Homo sapiens: one gene and its partner. The protein of the gene in region 1 interacts with the protein of each later gene in a pairwise test. Each region holds a gene or a part of one and is shown in the gene's direction. Other genes may lie near its edges.

Region 1 (5,728 bases):
GACTGATCACAAAAAAAAAAACCTTTTTAATATTTCTTTATAGCTGAGTTTTCCCTTCTGTATCAAAACAAAATAATACAAAAAATGCTTTTAGAGTTTAAGCAATGGTTGAAATTTGTAGGTACTATCTGTCTTATTTTGTGTGTGTTTAGAGGTGTTCTAAAGACCCGTGGTAACAGGGCAAGTTTTCTACGTTTTTAAGAGCCCTTAGAACGTGGGTATTTTTTTTCTTGAGAAAAGCTAATGCACCTACAGATGGCCCCCAACATTCTCTTCCTTTTGCTTCTAGTCAACCTTAATGGGCTGTTACAGAAACTAGTTCGTGTTTATATACTATTTCCTTTGATGTCCTATAAGTCGGAAAAGAAAGGGGCAAAGAGAACCTATTATTTGCCAGTTTTTAAGCAGAGCTCAATCTATGCCAGCTCTCTGGCATCTGGGGTTCCTGACTGATACCAGCAGTTGAAGGAAGAGAGTGCATGGCACCTGGTGTGTAACGACACAATCAGCACAACTGGAGAGAGGCATTAAAGAACCAGGGAAGGTAGTTTGATTTTTCATTGAATTCTACAAGCTAATATTGTTCCACGTATGTAGTCTTAGACCAATAGCTGTAACTATCAGCTGCAATACCATGGTGACCAGCTGTTACAAAAGATTTTTTCCTGTTTTATCTGAAACATACTGGATTTATATATGTATAAGCGCCTCAATGGGGAATTAGAGCCAGATGTTATGATTTGTTTGCTCTTTTTCTTTTATAGTTTAGTTATAGCAAAAATATGGATAATTTCTAGTGAATGCATAAATTAGGTTGCGTTTCTTATTTTGCTTTAAATCTCTGGTAGTTTTTCCACCCCTGTGACACAATCCTAATAGACAGTGTCCTGTAAATGGACACAACACAATAAAGTCAAGTTATTATTGCTGTTACTCTGGATGATATGGAAAACACTGCCATATTTTAAATCAACTACTCCACGTGTTTTTCCATCCAATCACACTGCTGTGATTCAGGGATCTTTCTTCTAAGACGGACACATTTGAACCTCAGGTTCATCACAAACCTGGTACCTGTTGCTTCCCAGAGGATGGAGAAGTGTAGTTAATCACACCTCTTAGTTTAATCTGAAATCTTGACCCAGTTATTTAACAAATAAATACCTCATTGATTATATTTAAAAGTAATACACTTCCTGTAAACAAATGGGGACAATGCATCCAAAAAATCTTTTTAAACAGATTACACAAAAATTATTTCCAGAAAGGCTACCATTTATCATCATTATATTTCAAGCCTCTTATACTTAATAAGCACTTTCTAAAAAGTCTTGAGATCCCACCATTCTGAGGAATTCAATATGATCACTTTTTCCTTCTTTGCCTGGGAGAGGTTAAGAGGAGGTTTCGAAGGTATAGATGCTATTGTTCTGATGGCCCGGCTGAATAAAATGGAAATTCTAGTTTGTTAGAATTATGCATTCTTTTTCAAGATTCTCAGTGTGCCTAACTTATTGGAGCACATCAGTTTCTTGGGTAATGGAAAACATTACCTAGAGTTGCCAGTGGCACATTACACCAGTACAGAGCACATTCCAAAGGAGACATTGGACCAGTTAATTCCCATACAAGTCAAGGTAACAGAACAAAAGGGAATCCTGATGCCCTTTTACCATTGCTGGTTGAGCTCAGGCACTGTCATGGACACCCTTAATTTTAAAAGGTTTTAATCATTCTTCTATAAAATACATTTAAAATGGAAAAATACTTAATATCACTAAATATCAGAACAATGTAACATTTACAAATGACATATTGAAAGCAAAGGCTGTTTTATTTAGCCAAGATGATTACCATTAGGAGTTACTTTATGTATTGTTGAAAGCAAATTTTAAACATGATGTTTTAGAAGTGTTTCTGATTTTTAAACCTGGTTTACAGGTATTACTTCTGCACTTACCAAATAATGCCAGATGGAAATTTATTATTTCTTGCAATTCCCATGATAGCTCTGTTCTTTATGCATTGTCTCAACACTTTCCCTTTTTTCCCAAAATGAGTAGAGAATTAAAGCCACCCAAAACAGCTTCTGCTACTAAAATGTTCTCATCCTTTCTCCTCCCTCTCCTTTTCCTGCCACAAAAGGTGAAAAATGAGATCCAATCCTCTCACCAAAATTTCAAACCTAGGACACTGGAATGACTGCAGGGATCAGTGGTTCTCCCATATCACCATCAATTAAGACATATAGGACACTGTCTTCCTTCAAGAGGGTTACAATGTGGCCATCAGACAGGAAACCAAACGGTGGATAAAGTATTAAGTAACTAAGTGCCAAATAAATGCTGGAAATCTTGACCTCTCCTTGGGATTATGGGTGTAACAAAAATCCCTACATCTGTTTATGAAGGCCATATTCAGTACATTTTAAATGGTAAATAATCTGTTTATGTGAAGAAAAAGAATTAAGTCTTTCTTCCAACTCTCTCCTTGGATAGCCTAGCACAGTGCAGCCTCCATAACCATGACATTCCCGCCCAAGCTCTCAGTGCCTAATCCTGCTTTGTCATTCACATCTCACAAAATCTTGACATCTTACATTCCAATACATTATCAAGCAAGCACAAGTATGCTGGTAGTAGCCTCTTTAAATAATATGTATAGACAACAACAACGACAAAAAATAGACTGTTTTAAAGTTTCAGGGAAAGTTGGTGGCTGATTTAAAGTTGTGCAGGAAACATCTTCTGTGTATGAAGCAAATGTCGATGTTTTGAAAAAAGCTAGGAGATGACTTTGAATGAATGCAAGGTTAGTGAGATCCTAAGCTCTCAAAATAGCATATTCCCTAGAGCTCAAGAAAGCTGGTCCAGGAGGTTGAAAAAGCTATTTTGTTGTTAAATTATTTTCTGGCCCTTCTTAATATTTAAAAATGTATTTCCCCTTGTGGCTTTCAACCACCTGCTCAAAAAAAGAGACTTGTTACATGAAAGTTTTCATTAAAGAGCTGAAAACAAGAATTTAGAGAGCCATTCCTAGAAAATGTCCTACTGCCCTGCATTTGACAAACAAGCATCCTTTACTAACAAGAGCAGGAATTCAGAGGCACAAGAAAAAGCATTGGCATGAGCCAAAGAGTCTGTCTTAATGTTACTTTTGAAAATCTGCTGAGCGGCCACCATATGCAGGCTGAGAGCTGGGCACAGGCGAAGCCATTGGAAGCACTTCAGGAACAAGCACACAGCTGTGGGACTTGAACATGCAAGTGTTCAGGTTGTGTCAAGAAGCTTTTCTTTCCTTCTATGATGGAATCTGTTCTTTTCTATCCTACTTTTTTCTCTCTTCCTCTCCTCACCACATTATACCCTGCTCTTACGCAGTAAACGTTTTAATGGCCCGTTTATGTCTCATGCCTCCAAACAACACTGAATTTGAAACCCCCCATTTTTTCTTTTCACCACCCTGTTGAGCAATTTTCCCAAAAAAAGGGCAGCAATTATTAAATTGAATTCAAGTAAGCCAGCCAAAGATAGGTCCTAAATTGCTAGTCCCAGTAGAACCACCTGATCCTAAACCAGTGCGAAACAAACAGTAACAATGTCCCCAGCTGACTTCAGCTAAGAACCAATGGCTCCTACCCCCGCCCCGCTTTTTTTTGTTGTTTTTTGTTTTGTTTTGAGACGGAGTCTTGCTCTGTCCCCCAGGCTGGAGTGCACTGGCGCAATCTCGGGCTCACTGCAACCTCCTCCTCCTCCCACATTGAGGCGATTCTCCTGCCTCAGCCTCCCAAGTAGCTGGGATTACAGGCACCCGCCATCACACCCAGCTAATTTTTTTTTTTTTTTGTATTATTAGTAGAAGCCAGGTTTCACCATGTTGGCCAGGGTGGTCTCGAACTCCTGACCTCAAGTGATCCGTCCACCTCGGCCTTGCAAATTGCTGGGATTACAGGTGTGAGCCACCGTGCCGAGCCAGCCCCATTTTTTAAATGATGTTTTGGTTAAGAGTGGACCATGAGAATTAGCTGACAGCATCCCCTTTCTCTCTCCCTGCCTTGGTGGGACCCTCCCTGTGTGACCTTGGTCAAGTCCTCGAACTTTTGTCCCGTATTTAAGATGGAGCTGTTTTACCTACTTCATAAGACAGTTGCGAGGTGCCATTGATTCTTGACTGCAAAATACCTTGAAACCCTTATATAAAGACTGAAGTCAACGGAGCCTAGTGAAAGACTTACTTTGTGGCTTGTGGTTGAAAGTCACATCAAAAGACAAATGTGGCCACGTTCAGGAATTGGAGACTTACTGGCATGGCTCTACAGCTGCTCAGTTATTAATCATGCAGACTAACCTGTCAACACTGGGAGATGCAACATAGCAAAAGGACAGAGAAATTAGAATTTTTTGTGCAGAAAGCCCTAAATTCCCACCTGAATGTAACTTACAGCTCCCTTACCTACTCTCACACATGCCCTCAAACATGCTAGATTGGCTTATACATAGGCCAACACAAAATACAAACGTGACGTGTTCATGTAGCCTAGTGGCTATATGCCTATTCTCCATGTACCCTGCATGGTAGTGCTGCAAACTTTAAAGTACATTTCTTTCACAGCAGTATTTTTTTTCATAAGTGGCATATAAATGTCATTCAATGAAATGGGGAAATCACGTTGAGAAGTTGGTCTGTCATCTCCCATTGAGCAAAGACTGGCAGGAGATAATAAAAATAAATATGGGCACACATGTATTAATATACAGCACGCATTTACAAGTTTATTTTCCAGATAAAATTGTGCTATAAGAACAGCTCTACCAAGACAGTCTGCACCATTTCCAAGTCTCAGTTAATTTACAGCAACTGCTGCTTTCGGAGATGGCTGTGAAAATATGGAAGTTCCTCTCAAGTAGGCCAAGAAACAGTTCTAGATTTTACTAAGTTTTATTTTGTCAGGTTTTTTAAATTTTTTCAGTGAGCGTGGTGACTGCAGAGGTTAGTGCTGTGAAAAGCTGGGCTAAATATTCTTTCTGTAAAGTCAAACAGGATTCCATCCCCTGTGAAATAACACAAAATTTCACTCTCTAAAAGCAACAGCATGTAAACTAGAATGAAAGAAGGAAATTATGTACGTATGCCTAATATTCTTTGTGAATGTCTTTCATTTAACTAAAATTATATTAGAAACCAGATTGATAAATAAAAAATTCAAAGTAGTTTTAATTATCCTAAAAGCGATTCTTCGTGTTTTGTACCACTTGTCTCTCTTAAGAGCAATTTTCAACCTTCAGCAAAAGTTAAGTTCCAAGCACTGAAATATAAGCCTACTGAGAATATCGTCTTTCCACAAGTTGTGGAGATATAGTCACTCCTAAAAGGTCTGATTTGGGTACGTCCATGGTTAACCTCCTACCACAAATAGCTCCCCGTTAAAAGAGGAGTTTTTCTTAAAGTGGCTTAGTAGACATTGACTTTGGTTAGTTTACACCCATCTTGATAAAATGTGGTTCGAGTTCAGTTATCTCCAGAATATATTCTGATCCTTATTTGGAATGAGGGAGTAACACTGGATAGTGGGCACATGGATCCAAGCCAGGGAACTAGACAGCAAGGACTCGGCATGCATCGGAGGTGCGAAGCTTCCTAAATGCACTCCGTGTGCTTTTAGAGCTAAGTTATTACTCTCACTTGCTAGTTGTTCTGCAGCGAGCAGCTCTATGCAAACCACCCCTGC
Region 2 (7,030 bases), on another chromosome or scaffold:
ATGGTCCGGGTTGGTAGAGAGGAGGCAGTGTTTAGGGGCAGGGGCAGCTCCACGAGAGGACAGAGCCAAAGCGGGGTGAGGGAATGGTGGGGTCCGCCAGAGGAGTAAGTCATTCTTAAGTGTGTGTTTGGACTCTGCCTTATAAATGCTGGAAGCCACCAAAGGTCTTTGATTGTGCCAGGCATCTTAGGTGTTTGAGGGAGATTAGCTTGGGGAAAATGTACATGAGAGATCGGGGTGGGGGCAGGAGAGGGTGTGCAGCAGGTAGGCCTGTACCCACATTGCTGGGGGCTGGGAAGGAAGGGTGCCGGAAGAAAGCCTGCATTCCCATGGCCCAGGCAGCCAGGCTGCTGTGAAGGGCTGGGAGGTAGAGGGAAGGGCTGACACCCTCAGACTCGGACCCTTCCAGCCTGTACTGAGAAGGGACCAAGCAGTTCCAAGGGTAAGGTGGTTTGGGGGAGCCCAGGCTCTTCCTAAAGGGCAACGTGGAGTCAGAGCCCGGGTGAAGGAGGAGCTCAGATTGGGCCTCAGGTCACACCACTTCATCAGTTGCATGACCTGTGGACTCGGGGATACAGGGAGACACACAGCCATGGAAGTAGCTCTCTGCAGTGATCGGGGGAAAGGTGGCCACTTCTGAACAGCCTGTCACCATGCAGGGCACACTGTTGTGCACTGGGCACTGAGACAGGCCTGGGGGGTCCAGTACCGACTCGGATGGGGGTTACCTTGGACTGACTGGGAGCTGCGGTCACTTGGTGGGGTGATGGGCATGGCCTGTCTTGAGTCTGTGCCTGCCAGGCCCTGAAGATCTCCCTCTGTCTCCCTCTGCAGTGATGGGTCGTTCCCCTATGACTCTGTCCCTTGGCAGCAGAACACCAACCAGCCTCCCGGCTCCCTTTCCGTGGTCACCACGGTTTGGGGAGTAACCAACACATCCCAGAGCCAGGTAAGAGCCTATACTGCCCTCAGCCACAGCTCTTTCTAGGCGGGAGTGTCCCTTGACCCCTGGAGCCATACCAGCCCTCTTCACCCTCACAGGCCTTGCCCTGCTGGAAAGACCAGCTTCCAGGGCACACCCAGCTGTGGACACGTCTCCACCCCTGGCAGGCTCTGCACCCGCCTCAGGAGGGCAGCCTCTATGGACTGTCCCCATCCTAAGGCCTTTCTGGAGGAATGGCATTCATCTGACAGACAGCAAGGGGTTCTTCCCTAGCCCATTTGCTCTGGTAAACAGGAGAACTTCCTCTGTGTTACTGGCTTCAGGGCTCCAAGGTCTGAGGTCTCTGACCCTGGATGTATGGCCTGAGTTGGATTTCATCAAAATATTGTGCCTTGGACTTCTGACAACTCCCTACTCCCCATTGCCCTAGTCAGACCCACCTCCCTCTCATTCCTTCCTCTCTCTTCCACTCCTCCTCTGCCCAGTCAGGGAGTCTCCCACCTGTCTGACCTCTGCCAGCCTTTTCTGTGGCTACATGGAAGGCTCAGGGCTGCTTGTCACCCTGGAGGGAGCCACTGGGCTGACCGGTTGTCGCCTGCTCCTGCTGCCCTCCAGAGCTAGCAGGGTGGGTTCCTCTTGGCCCTCACAGAGCAGCAGCCAGGGGCCTTGGGGCCCCTGTGTGACAAGACGCTGGCATCCAGGCTCGTTTGTGGGGCAGTAGGCTTCATGGCCAGGGCTCTCCCCACGGGTACCTGGTACAAGAGCAGCCTCTTCTCCCTTCACTGGGCTGCGCAGCCCCTGGGGACCGCTTGAACTGGCTTTGTGGGGCTTGGTCATACCCTCAGCTTGTTCCATCACAAGGCTGACGTTCTCATCCCCCACGCCACCTGCCGCCCAGGCCCGCTCCTTATCACCGGTACACTCAGAATAGTTCATCCACCCTCCATTTTTTTCCTCCTCCCTGTTGTCCTGCCTCCACTTTGTTCTTTCTCCCTTTCCCCTCTTCATTTATCCCTCTTCCTCTCCACACTGCCTCGGGTAGCACCTTAGGTGACAACCACTTCTCTGCCCACAGGTCCTTGGGAACCCTATGGCCAATGCCAACAACCCCATGAATCCAGGCGGCAACCCCATGGCGTCGGGCATGACCACCAGCAACCCAGGCCTCAACTCCCCACAGTTTGCGGGGCAGCAGCAGCAGTTCTCAGCCAAGGCTGGCCCCGCTCAGCCCTACATCCAGCAGAGCATGTATGGCCGGCCCAACTACCCCGGCAGCGGGGGCTTTGGGGCCAGGTGAGCAGGGCTGACCTGTGGCAGAAGCCATGGACGCCACCCCTCTTCCTCCTTCCAGTGGGGAGGGACCCACTTAAATCCCAGCTCCACGCTTTCTGCCCTGAGAAGTTATCCTCTGTTGTTACATGAGTTGAAGGGGCTCAGTCATCCCTGGCTCCCAGGGCTGGCCTGCAGATAAGGCGCTGCAGCAGTTGGCCTGTGTTCTGACAGTCGTCAGACTCGTAGAAATAGAGAGGTGACATTCTTACTCCTCAAAACCTCAAAACAACCCTTCTCTAAATTTTGTCTTTAATGAATAGGAAAATATTGAGAAAATCTGGATTGGGAAAGTCGAAGAGCAGGTATAGATGGGGTCCAGTTGCCCAAAGACAGTGAAGCAGTCTGGGAATATCTGCTCTGCCTTGCTGATTGGTGAAAGCAGAACTATGCAGAGACTGCGAGTCCCTTGGCTGGGAAGAAAAGGGCAGGGACTCCCAGGATATGGAGCTCTGGGGAGTGGTGTGAGGCGAGCAGAGGTGCCCATTCTCCTCTTTCCACCCCGCCCTGCCTAAGACCCCCACCTTGGCCTCAGCCCTCACCAGCCCTGGCTGGGTTTCTGGCCTGGGGTTGGCACAGCTATATGACCTGGTGGTTAAACACAGGGATCAGAAACACCTGCAGCTGCAGCCGCAGCTCCGCCATCAATGCTGCAGGGCCTTGGGCAAGTTGCTCAGGTTCTCTGAGACTCAGTGTCCTTCAGAAGATGGGCTCACCAGGGCCCCGACAGCATGCAGTGAGGGTGCAGGCACCCCCAAGGGCTCCAGGAGCACAGCAGCCTGGTCGTTGCCAAGTGGCACAAATGAATGGCTGCCAATCCCAAGAGGCCCCGTCCCCTCTAGGTTCTGGGTACAGCTCCATCATCTCCCTTCCAGCCCACAGCTTGCCCTCAGTTCCCCTCAGATGCAGGCAGTACCTAACTCTTCCACCCTTCTCCCCCTGCAGTTACCCTGGGGGTCCTAACGCCCCCGCAGGCATGGGCATCCCTCCGCACACCAGGCCGCCTGCTGACTTCACTCAGCCCGCGGCAGCCGCTGCAGCAGCGGCAGTGGCAGCAGCAGCAGCCACAGCTACAGCCACAGCCACGGCCACTGTGGCAGCCCTGCAGGAGACACAGAACAAGGATATAAACCAGTATGGACCGGTAAGGGTTCCCACTAATCCTGGTCCAGCCTTGCCCAGCCAGCCAGGCAGACAGCCCTGGGAAACCAGAGTTGGGATGTCAGTGCTTATGGGGCCATGTGTGCTGGGAGAGCTGACTGCATTAGGGTGCATTTGGGCTTTCATGGAAGCATGTGGAGGTCTGTGTGTTTAGAATGGCGCATGTCTAGAATGGGGCGTGTCAGTGTGCTTGGGTGTGGTGGGGTGTATGGGTGCTGGTGTTTGTTCTGTGTGTTGGTGGCTCATGTACAACTGCATATGGGGAAAAGGTTCTACATGGCTCTCTGGGCCCCCAACTCACCAAGGAGTGGGCTCAATGTCTAAAAATAGTCTTGTGACCGGTCTGTCTCCTGGATTGCCTCTGAGACCAGTGCCCTCCTAGTCACCCTATCTGTGGGTCTGCGCAGGCCCCAGTGCTGCTCCCTGACCTTCTGAAGGATGGGTTAGGGGATGAGGAGAGGGGAGCCCCCATAGGAATGCAGAACAGGAGGTGAGGAGGTGGGAACTGCAGGGCAGAGGGGCAGAAGTGGAAGCTGGGCTGAGGCCAACTTTGGGGATGGAGGGTGTGCCTCCACTGGCCCAGGACCAAGGGCAGGGCCAGGGCTTCCAGGAAAGGGGCTGCAGTCTCACTCGGGCTCCTGCCTCCACCCTCATCTACCTCCACCCTCCCATACCCCTCCCTGTCCCTGCACACTTTCCTGGTTTTCTGCCTGCCTCCCTCCCTGGAAATGCTGCCTGTGCATCGGAGTGACCACCTCACCCCACCCCACCCCATCCCCTAACACCCCTGAGCTGCATCTCTCCTGTGCGGCTGCAGAGGGCAGCAGTGAGCCTGGGTGGATCCTGCTCCCCTGGGGCCTGGTTGGTCACCAGTCACTGCCGCACAGGACAGTGCCCCCTCCCCACTCCTCCACCTCCCCAACCCTTCCCTCCCTGCACTTTCAATGCATGTGGCATTTTATTCTTTTTTTTTTCTTCTCCCGTTGAAGGTCTGTTCCTCTTTCCAGATGGGTCCCACCCAGGCGTATAACAGCCAATTCATGAACCAGCCCGGGCCGCGGGGGCCTGCCTCCATGGGGGGCAGCATGAACCCCGCGAGCATGGCGGCTGGCATGACGCCCTCGGGGATGAGCGGCCCTCCCATGGGCATGAACCAGCCCCGGCCGCCCGGCATCAGCCCCTTTGGCACACACGGGCAGCGGATGCCCCAGCAGACCTACCCGGGCCCCCGGCCCCAGTCCCTTCCTATTCAGAACATAAAGAGGCCATACCCTGGAGAGGTGAGTGCAGCAGTGGGAGCCTGGGAGGTGGGAACTGGGACACCTGGGCTTGAAGACATGGGCCGTGGGTACGGCTTTGGAAGGGGTGTGGCTTGGACTCCAGCACACTTGGACAAAGAGGCAGGGGCTTAGGGGTCAGGTGCTCCTGGGTTTGAGACCTGGTTCTGCTGTTTCCCAACTGAAAGACCTCGAGCCAGTCACCCTGCCTCCTAGGGCTGCTTGAGGGACTTGAGGAGGTGTCCGTGAAGTGCTTGGCCCTGGGCTGGCATGTGCCGCCACTCAGCAAGCAGCAGTTCCTCTTACTGTAGTGACTCTTGTCTTGGCTCAGCCACTAACTGGGTGACCTGGGTTTAGTTCCTCCTGCCCACATGAGAGCTTCCCCAACTCCTCTCCAAGAAAGAGAGCTGAGACAAAATGCTTCCAGTCTATAAGGGCTGACCCGTCCGGGAAGTGACTGGAAGGCAGGCAGCGTGTTTCCAGTCTGTAAGGATTGACCTGTTGGGGAAGTGACTGGAAGGCAGAGAGCGTGTTTCCAATCTATAAGGACTGACCCGTTGGGGAAGTGACTGGAAGGCCGGCAGCTGTTTCCAGTCTATAAGGACTGACCCGTCAGGGAAGTGACTGGAAGGCAGACAGCGTGTTTCTTAGCTCTTGTTTCCATCCACACTTGGTCACTGTATAGGAAGTGGCACTGCCTCTTGGGCTGCACAGCCAGCTCAGCCAAGGTGTTGGGGAAGATTTGGGGAAGTAAAACCCACACCTCCTGCCCTCTGGGAAGTGAGGTTTTAGCAGGAAAGAAAAGTTTTTAGCAGAGACTCACCAGGGAATGAAGCATAGCAGACTGCACAGAACTCAATATGAGTCAGAGAAGGCAGGCTTCCTGGAGGGTGTGTCACAAGTAAATCCTCAGAAAATGATGCTGGCAGCAGCTGGCCCATCTGGGTACCCAGGTAAGGATTTAGTTTACCTGCAGAAGACGTAGGGACGTGGCTCTGCAGATGCCCCTCGTGAAGCCCTGGTTGCTCCCCACGACCAAGCCCCTTTTTGAGCAGGGTGTGCCCAGCTCTCTGCCTGCCTCCCTCCCAGCTTGCATGCCCACTCTCAGAGCAGTTTTCTCCTCCTAGCTCCTCTCAGCTCTGTGGCCTTCACCTTGGGTTCACAGCGGCTTTAGATTCCAAAGACCTTAAGTTCCTTGAAGATCTGCACATTTCCCCTCAGTATCCACCTTAGGATGGGCGGGGAGGCTTGGCAACAAGTGGAGGTATTCTGAGTTCAGGAGGGGAGAGAGAGGGGGGGGGGTCAGGGGCTTCCTCATGCATCCAAGAAGCTGGATCAAGCCCCAACCCTCCACCTGGTGGACACTAGTTCAGGGAGGGGCCAGAGAAGGACCATTGGCTCCTGGGTCCTGAGTTTGGGGGAGCCTCAAGCTATTGGCACCTCTCCTGGCACTCAGGCCCCATGCAGTTTCTAGGCCTTTTCTCAGCCACCCTGTGCTCAAAATCCCAGTGTCCCACTGGCTGTGCTGGGGGTGCATCTGTTAGCCCACGCCAAAGGAGGCAATCTCGGATGAGGCTTCAGCAGAATTCCTGGTCATTGGTGTCACCCCTGCACCTGCACCTGTGCCATGCTTATGGCTCTTGCCTGCCTAAAGAGAGCACACCAAAGGCTCTCCATATTTTTACTAAATTAATCATCCTTTTCATAGAGTGCTGCTGCTACCCAGCTACAGCACTGGGTGGTCACAGCCTATGCGGCCTGATCCTGTCTGGAAGACTGGCCTTCCTTCCCCTTGCCATGGCTTGTTCATACAATATTTGAATTGTTGGAGCCTTAGGACAGGGGTTGGGTCATCTGGTCCCACAGAGGACTCTCTTCTCTAGCTTGGTGGGCAGGTAGGCACCAGCTACGTCTTCTATACCTCCTGTGGTGGGTGCCTCACTGTCACCCAGAGCAGCCACCATGTTGCAACAACGTGAGTTGTAGATTCTTCCACACTGACACTTTCTGACATTTATCCCTAAGTCCATCATTCGTTTGTTGAGCAAGTATTAAGGGTATTTTCCCAGGCACTGGGGCACAGCCACCAACAGGACCTCTGGGCAAGAGAGACACTCAGATGGGGAAGAAGAAACCACTGACTCACAGGATGTCATGTGGCCGTGAGGGTCACCTGATTTTCCAGACAGGGAAGGTGGCTGGAGGGTGGTGCTCTCTCCTCTTCTCTAAATTGTCTGTCCCGGGAGAAGTTGTCTTGTTCCTTCACCAACCTGGCTCTCCCACCTCCTGCACAGGTGGCAGGTTGTCGATGGCCCAGAAC

What was found. The genes of interacting proteins can lie anywhere in the genome.
Region 2: the proteins of CNTNAP2 (region 1) and ZMIZ1 interact in a two-hybrid assay, tested with the Homo sapiens proteins (one study listed by BioGRID and IntAct).

The regions. Positions count from the first base shown.
Region 1 is NC_000007.14:148,415,771-148,421,498, forward strand, and holds the end of CNTNAP2 (contactin-associated protein-like 2 precursor), read left to right. Parts: 3' UTR 1-5,228; downstream 5,229-5,728. UniProt on the Homo sapiens protein: Required for gap junction formation. Required, with CNTNAP1, for radial and longitudinal organization of myelinated axons.
Region 2 is NC_000010.11:79,288,941-79,295,970, forward strand, and holds part of ZMIZ1 (zinc finger MIZ domain-containing protein 1), read left to right. Parts: intron 1-834; coding exon 835-949; intron 950-2,018; coding exon 2,019-2,236; intron 2,237-3,217; coding exon 3,218-3,416; intron 3,417-4,422; coding exon of another isoform or gene 4,423-4,440; coding exon 4,441-4,713; intron 4,714-7,030. UniProt on the Homo sapiens protein: Acts as a transcriptional coactivator. Increases ligand-dependent transcriptional activity of AR and promotes AR sumoylation. The stimulation of AR activity is dependent upon sumoylation.